Linked DNA regions of Homo sapiens. The protein of the gene in region 1 interacts with the protein of each later gene in a biochemical or structural test. Each region holds a gene or a part of one and is shown on either strand. Other genes may lie near its edges.

The links.
Region 2: the proteins of CD34 (region 1) and SELL form a complex in vitro, tested with the Homo sapiens proteins (one large-scale study listed by IntAct).
Region 3: the proteins of CD34 (region 1) and SELP form a complex in vitro, tested with the Homo sapiens proteins (one large-scale study listed by IntAct).

Annotation. Positions count from the first base shown.
Region 1 is NC_000001.11:207,880,284-207,883,933, reverse strand, and holds the end of CD34 (hematopoietic progenitor cell antigen CD34 isoform a precursor), read left to right. Parts: 3' UTR 1-2,962; downstream 2,963-3,650.
Region 2 is NC_000001.11:169,705,121-169,708,620, forward strand, and holds part of SELL (L-selectin precursor), read right to left. Parts: coding exon 3,297-3,500; intron 2,330-3,296; coding exon 2,222-2,329; intron 1-2,221. UniProt on the Homo sapiens protein: Calcium-dependent lectin that mediates cell adhesion by binding to glycoproteins on neighboring cells. Mediates the adherence of lymphocytes to endothelial cells of high endothelial venules in peripheral lymph nodes.
Region 3 is NC_000001.11:169,595,625-169,599,124, forward strand, and holds part of SELP (P-selectin precursor), read right to left. Parts: intron 1,553-3,500; coding exon 1,367-1,552; intron 511-1,366; coding exon 301-510; intron 1-300. UniProt on the Homo sapiens protein: Ca(2+)-dependent receptor for myeloid cells that binds to carbohydrates on neutrophils and monocytes. Mediates the interaction of activated endothelial cells or platelets with leukocytes. The ligand recognized is sialyl-Lewis X.

The DNA.
Region 1 (3,650 bases):
GCTGGCTGCTGAGTAGAGAATAGAGGTTGAGGGATAAGAAAGTAGAAGGAGACCGTAGCAAGAAGAACGATCATGGCTGGGAGCAGGTGATCATATTGGCAGTGATGAGATCAAGCAGAATTCAAAAAGTGGTTTCAAAGTAGAGGTAACAGGACTTGCTCAGTCTATTTATTTCTTCAAATAATAATCATATTTACAATGATAGTAGCTAACAGTTTTTGAGTGCTTACTGTATGAAAATTGAGATATGGTGCCAATATTTAAATAGCATATTTTACTTAACATTCACAGAAACCCTGTGAAGTAGGTTCTATTATCTCAGAAAAAGAAACTGAAACTCAGAGAATAACAAGGGACTGTGTTACGTGCACAGTGGCAGAGGCAAAGATGAATAGGATGTGAGTTTATTTGAACCCCAAATGTTTAAATCTTGGGGATAATACAACACACATTTAAACAAAGAAGCAAGAAAAAAAATGCACAACAGAAAGTGAGAAATAACACGAGGAAAGACTAAATGAAGTGCTTTGTATCTAGATGTGGGCAGGACCCTTTCCAGCTGAGAAGATCTGAGACTGGGTCATGAACAGGTGGTTTCTGAGTGGGTCCTGTAAAAATGAATACGATTTTGATGATAGTAATGAGTAAGGACATTTGAGACTGATAGAAGAGTACATACAATATGTAGTGATGGGGAAAGATAAGGTACTGTCAAAGGACAATGTGTTTTCTGGTATGACAGAGAAGTAGAATGTGTTAAGGGAAGCCGAGTACCAGAAAGATCCGGGTGTCACAGTTTGTGTAGGGTGTTTAAAGCTAAACCACAGAGTTTAATTTTATCCAATAGAAGAGGAGCCACAGAAGAGTTTCCATTTATTCATTAATTTATTCATTTATTCAAAAAATATTTGAGTGCTTATTATAAGCCAGGTACTATGCCAGGCACCTGGGATAAGACATAGTCCCTTCTGTCAAGTCTTTACATTGGGTGGATGTGGGAGGGACAGATGACAGAACAATATGCATTGAGTGTAAGTGCTATGGTATAGGAAGCTCTGAGTGGGAGGGGCATGGAAGCCGTGGAAGACCATGGAAGGCTTCCCAGGAGAAGTGACGTCTGGACTGATCCTTTGGTCAAGCAGGAGTTAAAGAGGAGAAAAGGAGAGATATGGGTGTTCCCGAGAGAGGAAGAAGCCTTGTCCCAGGAGCAAAGTGAGGGTGATTGTTCCAGAAATGTGAGTGATTCTTTTAAGGCTCAAGCAAAGCATGTGATTCTTCTTTATACCTTCTATTTCTTTGCTGAGTGTTTCTGTTCTTTTGTTTCAAGCATGCTGCAATTGCTCATTAAAGCATGTTTATGATGGCTGTCTGTTTTAAAATTCTTGTCAGATGGTTTCAACATCTTTATCATCTCAATGTTGGCATCTGTTAATGGTTTTTTCTCAATCAAATTGAGATTTTCCTGGTTCTTGGTATTACCAGTGATTTTAATTGCATCTGGAAATTTGGGATTTATGTTGAAAGACTGGATCTTATTGAAAGATTCTGTTTAGCACCCCTCCTTTGATACCACACTGGTGGGTCCAGGTTCCCCATTCAGCTGTTGACACCTTCAGGGCAGAGAGGTGGGATGGGGTGAAGGGGGTACCTCATTATTGCTGGCCCAGGTTAGAAGTTCAGGCTTCCCAGTAGATCTCTGCTGATACCACCCTGGTGCCATGTCATTCCTTGAGTCCAAAAGTCCCTCCCAATTCTGCCTTCTTCTCTCTACATATCGGAGTCTCCCTATGTTTGACTTATATATAATGTCCAGGGTTTTTAGAGTTAGTTAACAGGAGGCATAAGAAAAAGTGTGTCCACTCCATCTTGTCTGGAACTGGAAGTTCAAGTCGAATATAAGAGAGAGGAGAGGAAATTACAAGCCATGAGACTGGAGAGTTAGGCAGGTTCTACACCAGCTATTCTCAAAGCCCTCTTACACTCTTAAAAATTTAGAACTTCAAAGAGCTTTTGATTTTGAAAGTTACATCTATCAATTATTACTGTTTCAAAAATTAAAATTGAGAAAATTTTATTTATTAATTTGTTTAAAAATAACAATAATTATTCAATTACATGATAATGTAAGTAATGCTTTTCTTAATGAAAAATAATTATATTTTCCAAAACAAAAACAATTAGGAAAAAGAGTGTCATTGTTTTAGACTTTGGTAAATCTCTCTAATATCTGGCTGAAGAGAAGAATGCTGATTCTTTTTTTTTTTTTTTTTTTTTGAGACGGAGTCTCGCTCTGTCACCCAGGCTGGAGTGTAGTGGTGTGATCTCGGCTCACTGCAAGCTCTGCCTCCCGGGTTCACGCCATTCTCCTGCCTCAGCCTCCCAAGTAGCTGGGACTACAGGCACCCGCCACCACGCCCGGCTAATTTTTTTGTATTTTTAGTAGAGATGGGGTTTCACCGTGTTAGCCAGGCTGGTCTCGATCTCCTGACCTCATGATCCACCCACCTCAGCCTCCCAAAGCGCTGGGATTACAGGTGTGAGACACCGCGCCCAGCCCCCGAATGCTGATTCTTTTATCTGCTTCTGTATTCAATCTGTTGTGATATGATGGGTAGCCTCTGAAACACTCCACTGTATACTTGTGAAAGAATGAATGTGAAAAAGGAAAATAGATTTGTAGTATTATTATTCAAATTGTTTTGACCTCAGAGACCACTTGGAAATGTTTTAGGGAACCCCCAGAGGACCTTGGATCATGCTTTGAGAACCGCGGCTCTAGATATGTTACTATTTCAGTAGCATCTAAGTACATGTGGCTGCTGAGCACTTGTAATGTGGCTAGTGCAAATGAGAGACAGGACTTCCAGCTATATGTAATTTAATAAACTCAAATTTAAAAACTGGAACCTCATAAAATGTTTTGTTGTTGTTGTTAAACATGACCTTATAGTTTTGGTAGGAATACATTTCACTTTAACCCTTCAAAATTTAGCATTTGAATTGAGATATGCTGTATATGTTAAATACATGACAGATTTTGGGGACTTAGAAAAAAATAATGTAAGATATTTCATTAATAGTTTTTATATTGAGTATTTTTTGCTATGATAATATTTTTGATATATTGGGTTAAATAAAATGTATTTTAAAATTAATTTAAGCTATATTTATTAAAATCTTTAGAATGTGGATAATAGAACATTTAAAATGACATACGTGGTTCACATTTTATTTCTCCTGGAGTGTACTGCTGTAGATGAATTTAGATGATGAAGGCTTTGTGTGTCATGTAAAGCTTATTCTTTATTTTGAAGGTAATGTAGAGCCATTGAAAAGTCTGAAGTAGAGAAGTGACATATCAGATTTGCATTTTAGAAAGCTTACTCTGGCTTCAGTGTGGAGCATGGACTGAAGAAGGAACCAGTTAGGGTTAGGAGGTGATTGCATTATTGAAGGGTAGGAAGACTGTGGCCTGAAGAAAAGTGGCTAAACCAGAGACATATGGCTGGGCGCAGTGGCACACGCCTGTAATCCCAGCACTCTGGGAGGCTGAGGCAGGTGGATCACTTGAGGTCAGGAGTTCGAGAGCAGCCTGGCCAAAATGGTGAAACCCTGCCTCTACTAAAAATACAAAAGTAGCCGGGCATGGT
Region 2 (3,500 bases), about 38 Mb from region 1:
ACATCAGAGCCCCTGAGTCTACTAGAGTATTGGGAGCAAGATGTTCAGAGAAAGAGTGGGTCTCCATAATAAGCCTTCTTTGCAAGGAGAGAATATAAAAGTCTAGGAAGCATTTTGACCTCAATTCTGTCTTCTATTCTAGCTCAGTTCCAGAATTTTAACTCTTTTGATTTTGACAACCCTCTCCAGAAACTGTATCTATTTCCCTGTTCTGATTGGTGGTACAATAGGTAAATTTAAGACTTGGAAATCAAAGTTTTCACATTTTAGACCCTGCCATGCCATTTAGTAAACAGTACAACTTTCATGTCTTATTCCTCATCTGTCAAATTTAAGCCATTATTGCTACCTTGCTCTAGAGACTTCAAGGAAGAATGGACTCAAGGAATCAGAAGAATTTTTGTATTTGGAAACTATATGAGATGAGATTAGGGAGAAACATGGGAACTAAGAGAAAATGTTATCTTTTTTCATTGATTTAAAGAGTATCTATTATATATCAAGCATTACTCTGGGGCTTGAAGAGCTTAGATTTCACCCTGTAGGACAAAATGGTAGGTAGAAATTAATGGGTGGATTGTCATGTATGTGTGATGTGTTTTAATTGCTTTTAATTGATCAGTCTCCCTGTAGTATGAATAATGTATTTGAGGGGAGCTAATTTAAAATTGTGGAACTCATCTAATAAACTATTGCAAGAATCTAGAAGAAAGATAATGACGGCAATGGTAGTAGAGTTGACAAGTGGAAGACAAATTAGAAAAACACTAAGTTGTAAAAATTGGTAGAATGTTACCCTGCATAAATGTTGGGGGAGTTAAGAGAGTCTCATACCAGGGTGCCCATGTAAATGGTGATTCCACATACTGAGATAAGAAATACGAAGAGAAAAGCTGACTGGGAACAATTGGTTTTATAGTCTTTTAAACATCCCAAAGGACATCCTTAGCATATTTGAGTTCAGAGCTGGAGATAGGCTTATCAGTCCAAAGATCACATAGATTTGTGAGTCCGCAAAAGTCAGTAAGTTTGACCAAAGGATACATGTAGATTAGAGTCAGAAGAGCAATATACAAAAGACAAAAGCTGAGAAATTATAGTAGTTTATGGTCCTGGATAAGTGCTCATGAAGGATCTCAGGAGAAATGATCACAGGTAGAAAGAATGAGAAAAGAGTGATATGAGAGAAACCAAGACAAAGAAAAGTAAAATGTTAAAAATGAGTGAAATAGGCATACCAATAATTAAAAATGAGTAAAATAGGCATACCAATAACATAAGGGTTAAAAAATAGAGTTCAAAAATGGGGTGAGGGTAAAGTATTAGGAAGGAGTCATGGCCCAGGGATCAAGTGAAATGAGTTAGATCTATAGATCTATTTCAGTTGGTTGACATTTAAATGTATTTTGGTTTTAATTCTTTATTGTTTACAAACATTGCTTTTTTAAAAAATTAAATTGTCCAATTCAATTCAGGCTCACAAGCAAGTGCCTCATATATACAGGCATTTTGTGGATCCCAAAGATGCAATGATAAATAGGACACTTACTGATCTCAAGAAGTTTTCAGTACCAGAGGAGACGGACAAGTGAACAGATGACTTCAACATAAGTGGGAGAAATGAGGAAGAAATATGTGGAGCTATCAGAACTAAGAAAGCTTCCTAGAAGAAACTGTCTTTGAACAATGTCTTAAAGATGACATGTTTTTTGGCCATGTGCAAAATGAGAGAGAAGGCCACCAGCAAAGTCAGTGTGCTACAGAGCACATGTGTTAAGTGTGGAGAACTGCAAGAAGGAAAGGAACTACTAGAAGGAAAAAGCAAGATACTTTCTGGGTAACTCAGCCTCCTAATGATAAATGGCATAGTTTCTTCCAGACCTTAGAGTTCTAATTAATCTAACAAGCTCATTAGATCGTGAGCTTCTTGAGAGCGGGAATCTACCATGCTAATTCCTTATGGTAACCCTGACAGCTTTTATCCCAACACTGTGCTTCTTGTGGTACTCAAAAAGACTTGTTGAGAAGTGAGTCGAAACTTCATGCTGACTTATGAAATCTTTACGGAAAGGTAACAATATTGTGAAAGCAGAGCTTTCTGATCAAAACTTCCCATTTCTCAGAGTGGCTAGTATCATTTTGTTCCAACCAGCTTCATGATAAGCTATAATGATTCCTGTGACTTTACCTAAGAAGAAGCAAAGAAAGGAAAGAGACTTACCAAACTGACACTGGGGCCCATAGTACCCCACATCACAGTTGCAGGTGTAATTATTGATGATTTCTACACATTCTCCATGGCCACTGCATGACCAGGGCTGGCAAGAAGCTTTAAGGAGGTCAGAAAAAAAATATTTTAATGTGATTACATTTTAGTACTCAAAGTCATTTCTTTAGACATAGATAACCTTTTGTCTGAGATGATTTAAATAATCAGGAAAGGTTTATTTGTAAATTCATAGCATAAAAATCATATGCTAAAATTTTTACGTATAAAATACACTAAGCATATAGTCATAGGCATTTATTTGCTTTTGGAATGAAATTACCAATACTAATATTCTGTAACACTTATAGGAAACTTAGTGGCATACCTTGAAACTCTTGAAATTACTTGTTTTTAATGAGTGAGAAGGTTAAATGATGACCTGACCTCAATCATTTCTGCATGCAATTATTTCTTGGCAATCCCTTTCTTTATAGAAATCAAAGATTAAAAAGTCCAAATTTGCTAAAACGGTAGAGTCCAATTTATAAGAGACCAAATTAACTATGGTTCATTATTAAAACATCACTTGGAAAATGCTGGCTGTTTTGGAATTGTAGAAGATTTTACAGAAATATTCATACACCAAAGATAGTGCAATTTTTATATAAAATTATATAAGGTTAGACCAAGAAGGAAGCACGCAGCACCACACTCTCTACTTCACAATGTGAAAACTGAGGTGATGTGAGCCTAAGTTTCCAACTGGCCCCAGCTGTCAGCTTCTCCTCCCCTGCCTTATTATCAAAGGCACTGATTGTCTAGCTCTTCCTCTGTACTTCCTACGTAGATCTATCATTTTGATGTAACTTGATTTAGGGGTATAGCTTTTGTGCACAGGGACAAATCTTACACACCAAAAATTCTTAGGAGTGACACGATGCAAGATTATATAGAGGGCTAGATGTATTTTAGAATGAACCAGAAGCTGTTCTCATCCCCCCACCTTTCCATGGGGTAAATCTGAGTATTCTCTTAACCGTGGCCCTTCCTGAGTCTGAGGCAGCATAGCCGTCTTGTCACTCCCTACCTGTGTAACAGAGGGCTGCCTTTAGTTTGTGGCAGGCGTCATCGTTCCATTTGCCTGCATCTTTGTTTCTCTTGATATAGATCTCCACGCAGTCCTCCTTGTTCTTCTTGTTGTTGGGCTCACCATCTCCCCAGTTCTCTGCTTCTTCAGTAAGAGATTTGTTGGTTCCCACCCACGTCCATATTCCTCCTATCTTCCGGATTC
Region 3 (3,500 bases), about 38 Mb from region 1:
CTATAGCAGGTTTTACATTTAATATGTCTATTTTTCTAACACATCTTGGACATCTGCAAATGTTTCTTCCTTTAAGTCTCTGAGTACTTGTGTATTAGCTTTAGCTTGTGACATGAGGAAGGACAGAAGTGAAATGCCTGTGACACATTACTTCTAATGGGATTGGTGTGGATTTCATAAGGGAGATGACACTTGGAGTAGTGGTTGTGGTTGGGTGAGACTTCAACATACAGGCACAATGGCTAGCTTGAGTACTTGCAGGAAGGCAGGTTCAGAACTGCCTGCTCCTTTTCACCTTACCTCTGCATGCTGGAGTTACTGCTGTCCATTGTCCTGAAGGTCTGCAGCTGAGAGTGCTGTCTCCTATGAGTGTGAATCCAGCGTTGCAGCCAAAGTAACAAGTGGTATTAAAACCAAAGGTTCCCGGATGATGCCTACAGTACATGGTTCCCTGCCCAGGAGTGGTGAGGGCTGGACATTGCACCCCTGGAGTAGGAAGTGATGCTATGCCTGTTGTGAGAAAATGTTTCCATTCAGAGACCTCCCAATTAAAAGAAGCGTTAACAGAGTTAAGGCTAATCTGGAATAACTGCTTTTCACTCCCTTCATAACAAGGGAGGCTCCTGCAAGAGCTATTTAAGGAAGTTAAGAAAAACTATCAGTGTCAGAGATAGAAAACCAGATGAGGAAAATTATTAAAAATCATCCTTGAGGAGATGATTCTCCTGGCCAAGAGAAGAAATCAGAGGAGTCATTGTTGTTGCTATTTTAAAAAGAAGCAAGAAATGGTACAGAAATATAAGAAATTCAGCAGAAAGCCAAATATACATGGGCCAACTGCCTGCCCAACCCTGCCTTATTGGGAAATGGTACTGTTCTCTGACTAAAGGTCAATGTGAAAGTTGAAATTTACTGCAATGATTGCTTTCTGTCTCAAACTATTTCTTCCATTTGAATGATCCCACCAGCTTTGTCATTAACTTGCCATGTGGCAGGAAGATGATGATTGACCTCTCTGCACCTCAATTCCTAGATTTGAAAAACTGGACCAGTGACTCTACCCCAGTATTGTCTGTTTCTCTCAGCAATAAATTAATGGAGACCATTCCGTTCACTCAACAAAGCTCTTTCAAAAAAAGAAGCCATGAAACAAAATTCCTGCTTAAGAATCAATATACCTTTTATTCACAAACATAAAAATATCCTGTCACTCCTTAGACATTTTAAAATCCTTCAGCTGTTTGCTAAACCCAAATAATGGTAATATATACAATTATCTAGTTCACATATAAGAACTAGATAATTGTTTGTTGTTGTAGAATAAATTTCCAAAAGTAGAACTGTCTTAGCAAGTACATATTATTACCTTTGCAGGTTGGTGGAGTAGCTGACCATCTTCCAGAAGTTGTGCATTCCACATTATTGGGCCCCTCCAGCTTAAAGCCGTTGTCACAAGAGAAATGGCAGGTGGAGCCAACATTGAATTCTCCACGAGTGTCAGAACAATCCAGGCTGCCCTGCTCTGGGGCAAAGAGTTCTGGGCACTTGATGGCTAGAGTATCAAATTAAGAGTGTCACAATCTCCAAGTTTATTCAGAAGTTCTGTGTTACACAAAGTTCATTCACTTATATATTCAAAAAATATTTATTAAGCACCTATATTCCAGGTATTTTGCTAGGCAGCAGCATTCCACAACATATCATGTAGGTCATTTGCTGCAAAGGGCAGTGGGAGGATGGTAAGCTTACAGAGAAGAGTATAGGTACAAGTCACGAAGACAAAGAAGTCAAAGATTTAGGCAGCCATACTCAAGAACTTACAATGTCACCCTATTTTCTCTACACCCTCTGCTTCAGAGACCTCGTAGCCTGCCGCAGCTCCCTCTATCTTACTTGAATGGGTGCAATCCAGGATTTCATTTCCGCCCTTCCTCTTGCCTGAGACTACTTGCTCCCATATATCATGCCATCTTCTCAAATTCAACACACCTAAAACTGCAATGATTGCTTTCTGCCTCAAACTATTTCTTCCATTTGAATCTCCTCACTAATTGTTTTGTTTATTTTGCTGTTGTATTTTAATACCACCCATCCAGATAACACAGGAAAACTCAAAACCTCCTGGTCAAGATAGATTAGTTTCTTGGAATTCCCTGAAGTGACTTTGTGTGTTATTGCTTCTGGTTCTTGGCTCACATTCCCCTGAGAATTTTTCCACTTTTATGGCGTAAAATCCCACTAATCCTCCAGGATTTAACTCGTAAAGTCTCTGAAGACTCTGCTGATCACCACAGCCTGAACTCTTCTCCTCTGAATTCTTCAACTTTTTGTCTGAACTGATGTGCTGTCATGTCCCATGTCATACCCTCACTCTTCTACTGGATGGGAAAGTGTCTAAAACCCAAGAATGATTCATCCTTGAGTCTTCCATAACTCCCATCCCAGGATCTCAAGAGGCAGTGCTCAGTAACCACTTGCCAAGTGAATGAATAAATGAATTTAAATTTTAATTCACAATTTCCCCCCAAAAGTATTTTTACAAATTATTGCAGTTACATATTTTCTTAGCATTATTCTTTTCTCCCCATTAATTCTCTAATATAAGACTATTATTTATCAATAAATGTTGGGTTATAGACAAATGAAGTGACTATTCTTTCTTTAAATCTAAGGCTATTCTGACAACAATACCTTGGTCAGATAAGTCTCATTTACTTAGATAGTTTGATTTTTACAAACCTCTTCAAGACCTATATGCTCCCTCATGGAAAACCAATGTACAGTATTTGGCTTTTACATACTGGCCCATGTATTTTTCAGTAACAAGCTATTCATTGAAGGATTATGGATTCTTATTGCATGAATCCATTCAAATAGCCAAAATAACACAGTGAATTTCAGTTCAGTACTCTCAAATTGTTGAGTAATTAACAACTTCATATCTGACACATCAAATCAATTTACTAAACCTTTTTGAAACATGTCTACTGGTGTAACTCCTAGACATGAAGTCATCTGTGAACATTTTCACAAAAATAACTTTTTCATAATCTCCCAGAATTACAACTTTAAACTGAAGAATATGTATAATGTCAGCTGCAGGAAAGCAGGGACCTTGTCAGTTCTTTGAACACTGTATCCCAGAGAACAGGGCCTGACACATAGGAGGGGTTCTACAAATACTTATGAATTGAATGAATACAGTAATGAATACAATTTAATTTAAATGCATTCTAAAAGGTATGCCTACCTGGTTTGAAAAGAAACAAGAGGAATTACTGTTTTTAAAAATTAACCGAAGGGGGCCCTAGTATAAAATGAGAACTACTACAGCATTAAATTCATTTGGGGGATAGTGCTTTGGTTTCAGTCTTATCAGTCATGCTCAGCCAAGGTTACATATCCAGACTTTCATATTTATAAAAGTCTCTGAACTCTCTCAGGTAAAAATTAACCTTGACCCTTACATACTAAGAATTTGGCTCTGGATCATGTAAAGA